Linked DNA regions of Homo sapiens: region 1 is linked to region 2. Evidence: fine-mapped expression QTL. A gene starts in region 2. The other region holds a variant in brackets. All regions are shown on one strand. Distances are between the middles of the regions. Region 1 overlaps RMDN1 (regulator of microtubule dynamics 1). Region 2 holds the start of RMDN1 (regulator of microtubule dynamics 1).

The links.
Region 1: its variant is fine-mapped to the expression of RMDN1 in adrenal gland (GTEx, PIP 0.92).

The regions. Positions count from the first base shown.
Region 1 is chr8:86,470,161-86,475,549 of GRCh38, forward strand. It overlaps RMDN1 (regulator of microtubule dynamics 1), which reads right to left. Exons shown (of 10, transcript NM_016033.3): 9 at 4,660-4,793; 10 at 2,189-4,198. The coding sequence ends at 4,148. Among named protein-coding and RNA genes, the nearest start is that of RMDN1, 36 kb to the right of the region's middle. The variant G/A (reference allele first, on the strand shown) is at 2,524.
Region 2 is chr8:86,505,656-86,511,044 of GRCh38, forward strand. RMDN1 (regulator of microtubule dynamics 1) reads right to left here and starts at 3,031. Exons shown (of 10, transcript NM_016033.3): 1 at 2,837-3,031; 2 at 1,340-1,457. The coding sequence starts at 2,965. It also overlaps the pseudogene SLC2A3P4. RefSeq lists an enhancer at 2,776-2,945.

The DNA of each region.
Region 1 (5,389 bases), 35 kb before region 2:
GAGAGATATAGCCTATGTATGTAATAACACTTAGAACACAGAGTACTACCAACTTACTTTGATATACATGTACGTGGGGAAATAAGCATCTCAATCCAGCAGTCAGCTCTGGAATCCACACAAGAACAATCAGGTGGGGGCTGCACGGGAAGGAGAATGTAAGGGATTCCTGGGGTTTGTTCTCAGTAATGGGTCTCACCCTTAGTGGGGAAACGTCACGGACCAATGTGACACGTGGGGAATCAGGCTCCTGGGAAGTCAAATGGAAGAGACTTAGTGCACAGAATCAGAATCTTGGGAAGGCACCATGTCTTGCAGAAGAAACCTAACCCTCAGAGAGTAAAGGGGAAAAATGAAGATAAAAGGACCCAGGAGCCACACTCCTGGGCATGTATCCCAGAGAGATAAAATCTATGTAGACATAAAAACCTGCATATAATGCTCATAGCAGCTTTATTTGTAATAGCTAAAAATCAGGAATAACCTAAATGCCCCTCAGCATATGGTTGATATGGTATGCCCATAAAATGAAATACTAGTCAACTGTAAAAAGAAACAAACTATTGATAGAACTTAGGTCTCAAGGGAATTATGTTGAGTGAAAAAAAGTATCACAGGGTCTCACTGTATGATTCCATTTGTATAACATTGTTGAAATAACAAAATTATGGAGAACAGATTAGTGCTGTCAGAGTTAGGGATGGGTGGGGGAGAGGAGGAGGTAGATGGGTGTGACTGTAAAGGGACAGCACTGGGGATCTTTGTGATGACGGAACAGGTCTGTATCTTGATTATGGTGGCAGTTACCAAAAATCTACATGTGATAGAATTGCATACAACTATACACACAAGAGCATTTAAAAGTGGTAAAATTTAAATATAAGGTCTGTGGTCTGTACCAATGTCAGTTTCCAGGTTTTGCTATTGTACTACAGGTTATATGAGATGTTAGCACTGGGATAGGCTGAGAGAAAGGTACACAGGATCTTTTTTTTTTTTTTTTCAATTTGTGAATCTATGATTTTTTGAAAGTAAAAATATTTTTTAAAGTTCTAATAAGGAATCAGGAGGTAAGACCTCCATAAAAAGCTTTATTATTGAATGATACCTGATCTCACAAAAAACAAACAACTAAGCAGAAAATATTCTTGAACTAACCCAGACCCTTTCTTCCCATTTGATGACCTAGTATTGCTGGTAACTCAACATAAAATTACATCCCTAGGGAAAAAAAATAAAGTCACTCTAAAGAGAAATTGAAAATGAGAAAAAGGAGAGTAAACTTTAACACAATATGCTAATATGAATTAAATTATTAGATATTTAAAAAATCTGAAATAGCAACTTAAAAACTCAGAACTGGACAAACAAAATGCAGATGTGAATGACTGGCTAAAATCAGGAAAAAAATTCGGAGAAAAAGACAAACACATATCAGATGTGAAGGCAATTATAAAGTATCTAAGGAAGAAGAGATACAACCAAATGTAAAATAAGGGATATGGAAGATATAAATGAAAAGAGCCAAGAAAATGAAACAAAAAGGCTAAAAGAAAAATCAGTAAGTGATAAATGTGAAAGTCAGGCAAAGATCTAATAGAACTAATTTGAGTCCTGGAAATAAGTTGGAACAGCGGTTCTCAAAGTGTGGTCAATTAGACCAATCTGGAATGCGAGAGAATCTATGACAACCGGACTGGCCTATTCAAAAAGTCAATGTTGCAAGAAGAAAAAGATGGGGAACTGTTGTGGATGGAAAGATTAGCAACAAATCAAATGCAATGTATAATCTTTGGATCCTGATTTTAGAAAGCATGAGACATCTTGGGGACATTTGAGAAAATTTGAATATGGGTAGATATTAGATGATGTTAGAGAACTGTTAACTTCTCCAGTTGTGATAATGGTTTTGTGTTTGTTTAGGAAGATGTCTTTATTCTGAGAAAATGCATGCTGACACATTTGGGGTGAACTATTATGATGCTTGCAATCAGTTTCAAAAGGTTTAGAAATGTATGTGTCTATACACACACAAACACACATGTATAAATACAGGTTGAACATCCCTATTTCCAAAAATCTGAAACCTGAAATTCGTGCTCCATAATTCAAAACTTTCTGAGCACCAAAATGATGCTACAGGTAGAAAATTCCACATCTGACCTCACATAACAGGTCACAGTCAAAATGCAGGTGCACAACACAGTTTATTCGGTCTCCCTAAAGGAAAAAACCCATTTTAAAAAGCCATCCAGCAGAATGCCACATCCCTAGAAAGACCCACTTCCTGGCCCTTCAGCTGCTTCTGTTTCTCTTCACCTACAAAAATAAAATTACAGTATACAATAACCTTTTAAAATACAGCATCATTAAGTGGGAAACTGAAAGCCTGCCATTGTTGTTGCCGTTTAACAGCTGATACAGGTTTCTGGTGATGCTACTGTTGCCTAGCTACCCTGACCACATTATTTTTTCACTGTATCAGTGGTGTGTCATATTTTTTTTTTTGCCATCCTTGTTCCT[G/A]TGCGAGTTATGTCATATTTTTTACTGTTAAGTACTTATGCATGAATAAGTATAAGAAAATAACTGCTTATTGGTAGCATATACATTCAGTCAGGAATGATGGTGACATCAACCAACCACAAATTACCCACATGAGTGGCTGAGATAATGACACCTTTGCTTTCTGATGGTTCAAGGTATGCAAACTTGGTCTCAATGCACAAAATTATTAAAAATAATGTTATATAAAGTTACCTTCAAGCTATGTGCATAAGGTATATATGAAACAAGTGAATTTGTGTTTAAACTTGGGTCCCATCTCCAAGATATCTTATTGTGTGTATGCAGGTATTCCAAAATTTGGAAAAACATCCCAAATCCAAGATGCTTCTACTAGTCCCAAGTATTTCAGATAAGGGATACACAACCTATATAGCAAAATCACTGAATCTAAGAGATGGGTATACAAAGATCACTACTTTCAGTTTTCCTTTTTGTTTGAAAATGTACATGACAAACATATCCATACAGTTCATTGTAACATTACAATTCCCAAATCCTTTGGGAAAAATCCACCTACACACACAGTCTGTCTTTATCTAAGTGGATTCAAGATGCTCCTTTTTACAAAACTTAAAAAGATTTTGCAGTGGTGGCACTCCAGCCTCAAGTGAGTAGCATAGTCCTGCCTATTTAAAAACATCTTAGTATTCCATTTCACTCTTAAGTTTTGTGTTCCTTCCATTCCATTAGGGAATAGAACTTTGCATCTGATGACAAATTCAGTTTACCATGAGACTACACCACATTTAAAGTAAACTGGCCAGGTGCGGTGGCTCACGCCTGTAATCCCAGCAATTTGGGAGGCCAAGGCGGGCAGATCACTTGAGGCCAGGAGTTTGAGACCAGCCTAGCCAACATGGCAAAACCCCATCTCTACCAAAAATACAAAAGTTAGCCGAGTGTGGTGGTACAACCCTGTAATCCCAGCCACTCAGGAGGCTAAGGCAGGAGAATCACTTGAACCCGGGAGGCGGAGGCTGCAGTGGGCCGAGATTGTGCCACTGCACACCAGCCTGGGAAACAAAGTGAGACTCTGTCTCAAAAAAATAAAAAAGGAAACTACTCCATTTTTAGTCATCTCCTTACTTAGTTCTTTACTTACACAGGTTAGCTCCAAGATATATCATTTAACTACTTTATGTCAGGAACCCACAACATCCTAACCACTGTCACCACACCTTCTCTTCAAGATTTCAACTTAGAATCAATCCAATTTGAAAATCCATCCCCCTGTATATCCCCTATAGATCCATTTCCCCTCCTCTACAAATATTTCTTTGCTTGATCTCCCATCCCAATGTGATCAATCCTTAGAAATCTCATACCATTTTGCATTGCTGGTATCCAGGATGCAAAATAATCTCTTTGCCTGAGCCATGGAGATTTATTTCTACCACTCTTATGGCGATTATTTATTTTACCCTATTATTTGTGAAGAAGCCTAGAATATTTTATATTTACACGGTTAAATGGTCACAACATTTAAAAAGCCGTAGAACAGTTATAGTTCATATATTAAGTTTAGAATTAAAAGAAAAGGCAATGTTTATTAGCTATTTCATAAATCTTCTCTGAAAAGTTCTCAATTCTTCTCACTGAAACTTGTAAGCAACTGAGCAGCTTCTGTCTGTATCTAAAATGGAAAAATACATGTTATAAGTAAACAGGAGAGCTAAGAGACTAACTTGTGAAATTTAAGTTTATAAAGTGGGGTTTCTAAGAGTTTCCAAAAACCAGATAGGACATTATAACAATAAAATGTCTTGACAGTGACCAGATGAGACTCTCAGCTCTTCCACTTTAGTACACATCCCATGACTTTTATGTTTTAGAAATGTTAACTCGATCTGCCATGTGTGTCAAACAGGAATAATTCTGCATTGTAGCAGGCAACCCGTAACATCCACCTGGTGATAGTAACTAAATTATTTCCTATATAGAAATATAAATGTCAATCAATTTACACTTGAAATGAACACACTTGTTTTCAACAATATTATGCATTTAGAAAATTATGCTTTTAAAGAAGTTCTTAATTCACCATTTAATAGTGCCTCAAAACCTTTCTGCCTTACTTTATGGGAGATGTTTTACCTGTTTATCCTCCTCTGTGTGTGCTGGATAGTCCTTGGCTTTCATTAGCCAGAAAGCAGCAAGCTTTTTGTTGTGTAGTTTCAAGTATGTCTTTCCTAAAAGAAGTAAGTTTTTGCTGTAGAAGTTTGGATCCACTGCACATAAGAAAGAAAAAATGATCTCAGAGGAAACAGTGTTGCTTTTATTTTTAAAGGTTTGTTTCTGAGGTCTAAATTTCAATAAATTTGTGTGGTCAATAAGTGATTAGACTAATGGGAATTCTCTTTTGTTCAACTGTTTATATCTCAAACAAATATTTGTAAAATAATAATTACCAATGAATAAACATCTACAAATGTGCTAGGCACTGCATTATACACATTTCTCATTTTCACAACTTTGTAAGTAGGTATCTCCATTTTATAGATGAGAAGCTGAAGCTCCCGATAGAATGTATGCTATTTGAGGACAGCAATACTCTTTTTAATCTCTTTAGTTCCCTATGGTACCCCACGTGCCTACAACAGTGTGTGAAACATAACATACATTCAGTGTACATCGGCTGAATAAGTGAATGAAATGATGATGACATATATATATTTGATCAACATTTACTGGATGTCAGCTATACTTAAACATAGAGGATGAAACAAAACCTCTGTTTTTTTCAACTTTATAATGAAGAGAGAAACATGAACACAACTAAATGTAATATAAAAATGAAAGGAATGCTTTACTAGATATACAAACT
Region 2 (5,389 bases):
AGTGTAATTTTGCCAAATAATAAAAACAGAAGGAAATTGAGATTGGAGGGAGGTGTTTAAAGAGAGGTTATACAGTAGAAGATTTCATGCTGGGGAGGTTAGCGTGCAATATGAAGAATTTAGGGAGAAATGTAGTTCATTATTGGAGGGTATATTATGTGGTGCCTGAAGTCTGCACATTACCTCTTGACAATTTCTGTCCTTCAGATGGAAACTCTTAATTTCCCATAAAAGTCATATGCCTACATAATAAAGTTATTGATTTCCTTTGGAACTTTTTTCTTTTAATAGTTTACATGTAGTAGTACTTGAAATCTAGGATTATTAACTAATATGGGCATTGTAGTTAATGGTGGTTGATGGGTTCTAATTTTGAATGGAGTCAAGGGAAGGGAAAGTTATTTCTAGAAAGCTTGTTCCCCCTCACTGGACCAAACAACTCCTCCTTGTAGGAGACTCATTACTTTTGAAGTAATCCCACCACCTATCTGGTGGGAGAGCCATCCAAATGAGAAACTTAAAATAATCAGTTCTTGGTAGAGATTCATTATTTCTCCATTTTGTGCTTTAGGAGATTTTAGGTGTTGATTTTGTTTTATTTTAACTCATATCTTTAAAGGAATTCCCCAAAGAATGTTTATAGCTAACTTGGAATTTATAACCTCAGCTCTGGGATTTTTTTCTGAACGATTATTATCTAAAGGTGTGTTGTTGCCTTTAGGGTCATGCCATGCTTGTCTATGTCTGTTACCATGTCACTGTGGTCCTATGCCAAGTGCCCTTAGGGGGTCTCAATCTTTCCAACAGACCATGTTCGAGATAGTATGAGTCAATGTACAGTGTAGCCCACACTTGAGAGGATGAATATGTGTGCACTGTCCCTTTGCTCTGGATGGAAATAGGTTATTGTTGACTTATTTTTTCTGTGTTCCTACAGCCCCTTTTTCATATGTTGCTCAATTTCCCTTCCCCTTCTTGGTGCTTACACATCTCAGACCCTTTAGCCAAACCCTTGCTGATAACGGTATCTTGGTTCTCAGTTCTCACTGTTTCCTCTGGTCACGGAGACTTCAAATAAAAATGCACATAGCTATGGAGTGGGGTTTAGCTGGAAAAGGTGACCTTCTTCCAACTTCACGTCAACTTCTGGCTCCTCAAACAGTAGGTTGGCAGTTAGGCAGGGAAGTTGTTTTCCCATTTCTCACTGAGCAGATTGTGAATATTTCCATATGGATTTTCTATTATTAACATTACCCTGATTCTTTGTTTTAAAATAAAAATTCTGAATGTACGCACACAAAAAAACTCTAAATGTTCCATATATCTAATTTATGCTTACCTTTGGCTGTGGCATGAACCACAGCAGCCTGAGAGATAACCTGGTAAGTTTCAAAACCCAAATACGACAAAGCTGAGAGTAAAAGGCCTCTTTTGAAAGTTCCTGGGTTTCCCATTACCTATGGAAACAATTATGTTAAGAGTTACAAACTTTGAAAATTTGAAGGTACTGCTACCCCAAGCAAAAATTACATGAATTTTCTCCCACCCCCAAAGCAATCGATCATAATACTGGAAGCTTAAAAATTACTTCATCAAAATCTTTAGTAAAACTATCTCAAAGCGTATCTTATTGAGAAAAAGATATCCCCTGGAGTCGCCGCTCATCTAAAAATCACACTCCTGCTGGAAAGGAAGAGCTACAACTTATTTGCTACAACTTATTTGCAAATGCATGGATATTGCAAATTGTATGAAGTAAAATATGAGACACCAACACATAATAAAAATGAATCTTACAGACAAGATTATCATATATAGTAATTACTACATATAAAAATGTACATGGCTAACTTTTAAATTTTTTTGTAGAGACAGGGTCTCACTGTGTTGCCCAGGCTGGTTTCAAACCCCTGGACTCAAGCAATCCTTCCGCCTCGGCTTCCCAAAGTGCTGGGATTACAGGCTGAGCCAAGGGGCCAGGCCTAAAATGGGACTTCAAACTCATCATTGTTCCAATTTGAAAACTTACGGCTAACTAGTTTCATACTTAGAACTCCTCCCATCTCTCTGCCTATATTATCTATAACCTCCCCATTTGGTTATAAACTTCCAAGGAAGGGGAATATGCCAAATTTTAACCACCCCTCCCCACCATCAGTCCCATAATAATTCTGAAAGATTTTAACTGAGCAGTTAAAAATTTGAGTTTAAAATAATGAAACCCCTAGTTCATGTGAAATATATCATATGCATTAATGCCATTCCAATTCCCTGACAAGAATAAACAGAGGCCCACGAGCAGTCTAATAGAAATACCAGAACTGAGACTACAACATGCCGACAACCTTCATTGACGTTATGCAGATACAACGGGCAACTGAGAAATAAACATTTTTAAACAAAAACCTAAACAGTATGAAATCTCTGCTTCTGAGTCGTAGAACTTTTTAAATCACACACCACACTTTTCAAAGTCTGAAAGGGGCAGCCTCAAGCGCTGTTGTATCTGTCATCGCCTACAGGGAGAATAATTTCACAGCGGTCAAGGTTCTTTCCCGTCCTGTTTTACATTTCGCACAAGAAGGGCGGGTAGCAGGCAGCTTCTGGGGCGCGTGGGGGCAAACCCCACTCCTTCTCTGACAGCCCCAGTTAAGGATAGTGGAGGTTTGCAAAATGGAAGGGACCTGTCCGGGCGTTCCAGGCACAGTGGCCCCGAGTTCTTTCCTCGGTTCACCACATTCCTTAGGCAGCGCGGGGCCGCCACCACTTAAGTTAAGGGGGAGCCGGAACCCACTGAGTAGGAAGTGAGGAGCGGGAGCCAGGACCACGGGGGTACCTCGAAGCCGCGGAATCGACAGGGGCCGCAATGCCCGCGGCTGCCCGAAGTCCCCGCAGGGAGACGAGACCCCGGGGCGGCTCCACGTCGGAAAGGCAGAAGGCGCCACAGTCGAGCAGCCAGCGCCATGACCTGCAACTTGCGGGCTGACCCTGCACTACTTCAGGCAGCTACGGAGGCGGGCGGGGCTAAAGGAGATTCAATCCTTCCGGAAAGAACCGCGCCCGCCCGCCTCCTGCACAGCACCTCTTCCGCCTCCTGCCCAGCACCTCTTCCGCCCCCATGGTTTCCGGTGCACGGGCTTAGGGGGTGGGAAATACCCCGATTGGGTGGGACTTAATGGACTTTCCGCGCCTGCGTCCAGGACTGAGGCCGTGAGAGCGCTCTCTTCAGGCGCTCTGACTTGTTTCTGCTCCATCTCTCTAGGGGGTCTTTCATGGTTTGGGCACAAGGATTCGTCGCCAGAATAGAACTGAAAGCTCGGAAATAGACCCGAGAATACAAGTATGCCAGAAAAAAAATTGTCATTTTAATTATCTGCTGCCTTCAAAAGTAGATTGAATCTTGGTACTAGTGGGTCTTTTTTGGAAGTAAATAATTGGAAGAATTATGTTGCCCAACATGAAGAAGGGAAAGTCTCAGTCTCTTCGACTGAGCGACTCAAGGGGGTAGATTCAAGAGAGAGTCCAGAGCAAAGAAACAAAAAATGCAAAGCGTTTTGGGAAGAGGAACTAGCGGGAGGAGGCCTCTGGAAAGGATACTGATGCCCTTGAATGCTAGGGCATGTGTAGTAAAAAACAGAAACAAAAACAAACCCTGGTCTCCCCTAAAATTCTTCAATAAGATGTTTTACTTACTCGAGCAAAGTATTTTATTTTACTCGAGTAAAATAAAATTTCTTGCTCGAGTGGAATTCTTTTGTGGGAAAATGAAGAAATTTTGGATCCTACTTGAGGCCTGATCAGGGTGGGTGGAAACACAGACTGCAAAGGGAGTACCTACTATATGGGTTTAACGAAAAATCTTATGGGTAATAAGGGAGGCGAGTCATGGTTTTAAAAAATTAGGTTGCATTTCTATGGTACTTTTAATACTGTATAGGGAATTAATACATAGTCGTATTGATCTTCCGAACTACCTTGTGAAGTAAGTGGTATCCCAGGTTTACAAATGAAAAAACTGTAACTCAAAGAGATGTATTAACCTAACCAAGGATATGTTAGAAGACAGGAATCCATGTCTTTCTACTCTGAGTCCAGTGCTCCTTCTACTATATGATTGCTACCTCCACTAGTCCCATTAAATCAGCTGTATTTCTTTAGGATTATGTCTTTAAAGTCTATCTTTAAAAATATATAGATCTCCTTCCCAACTTCTGAAACCTAGCTGTTTTTTCCCAAAGACAGAATCACTTTTATTTTATGCATTTCTACTGGCAGCTACCCCCTCAACATTGCTAAATGTTTATGCCACTGGATACCATGATAACAGTGAAATTAAGTTTCTGATATCTCTGCTAGAGTGAATTTGTAATTAAGTTTTTAGCTTTGAAAAAAAAATTAGATCCTAAGAAAAGTTGCAGGAACTCCCATATATTCTTCAGCTAGATTCAGCCATTGTTACCTTTTTCTCACATTTGCTTTATCTTTCTTTACATATCTTACCTATAATACACATATTATATTCCTAGTATTTTCTGTTGTAAGGCCTTTTGAGAGTAGATTACAGATATCATGACTCTTCAGTCTTAGAAACAAGACATTCCCTTACTTAGTCCCAGTTTAATTATCAAATTCAGGAAACTGAAATTGACAGAATACTATTATTTAATATACAAATTTTGTTTAATTCCCAATACTGTCCTTTATACTAATGATTTTTTTTTCTAAATTCAAGATCAAATCTTGATAATGTCTTGCATTTGTTATGTTTCTACTTTCTTTAAATCTTTAAATCGTCAGCCTTGGTCTTTCACGACATTAGTATTTTTTAAATGTATAGTCCCATCGGTTTAAAGCAGGGTTTCTCAGCCTTGGCACAATTGAACTTTTGGGCTGAAGAACTCCTTCAGCCCGTCAGGCCATCAGATGATTGCAGCCTTGGCCAATATCTGACTGCAACATCAAGAGAGATGATGAGCCAGAAGCACCCAGCTAAGCCACTTCTAAATTCCTAAACCACAGAAGCTATGACAGATAATAAATGATTGTTCCTGTTTTAAGCCACTAAATTTGATGTAATCTGTTACACAGCAACTGATAACTAATATAACAGCCAAGTAAAGCATAGAGAGTTGGAGTGTGGAGTTTCAGAGGAAAGGTGTGGAAGTTTGATAACCTTAAGAATATAGGCTGGGCGTAGTGGCTCACACCTGTAATCCCAATATTTTGGGAGGCCAAATCGGGAGAACAGCTTGAGCCCAGGATGTTTGAGACCAGCCTGGGCAACACAGTGAGACTCTGTCTCTACAAAAACATGTTTTTCTTGTTGTTGTTTGTTTTTTGTTTTTGTTTTTGTTTTTTAATTTGCTGCATGTAGTGGTGCATGCTGTAG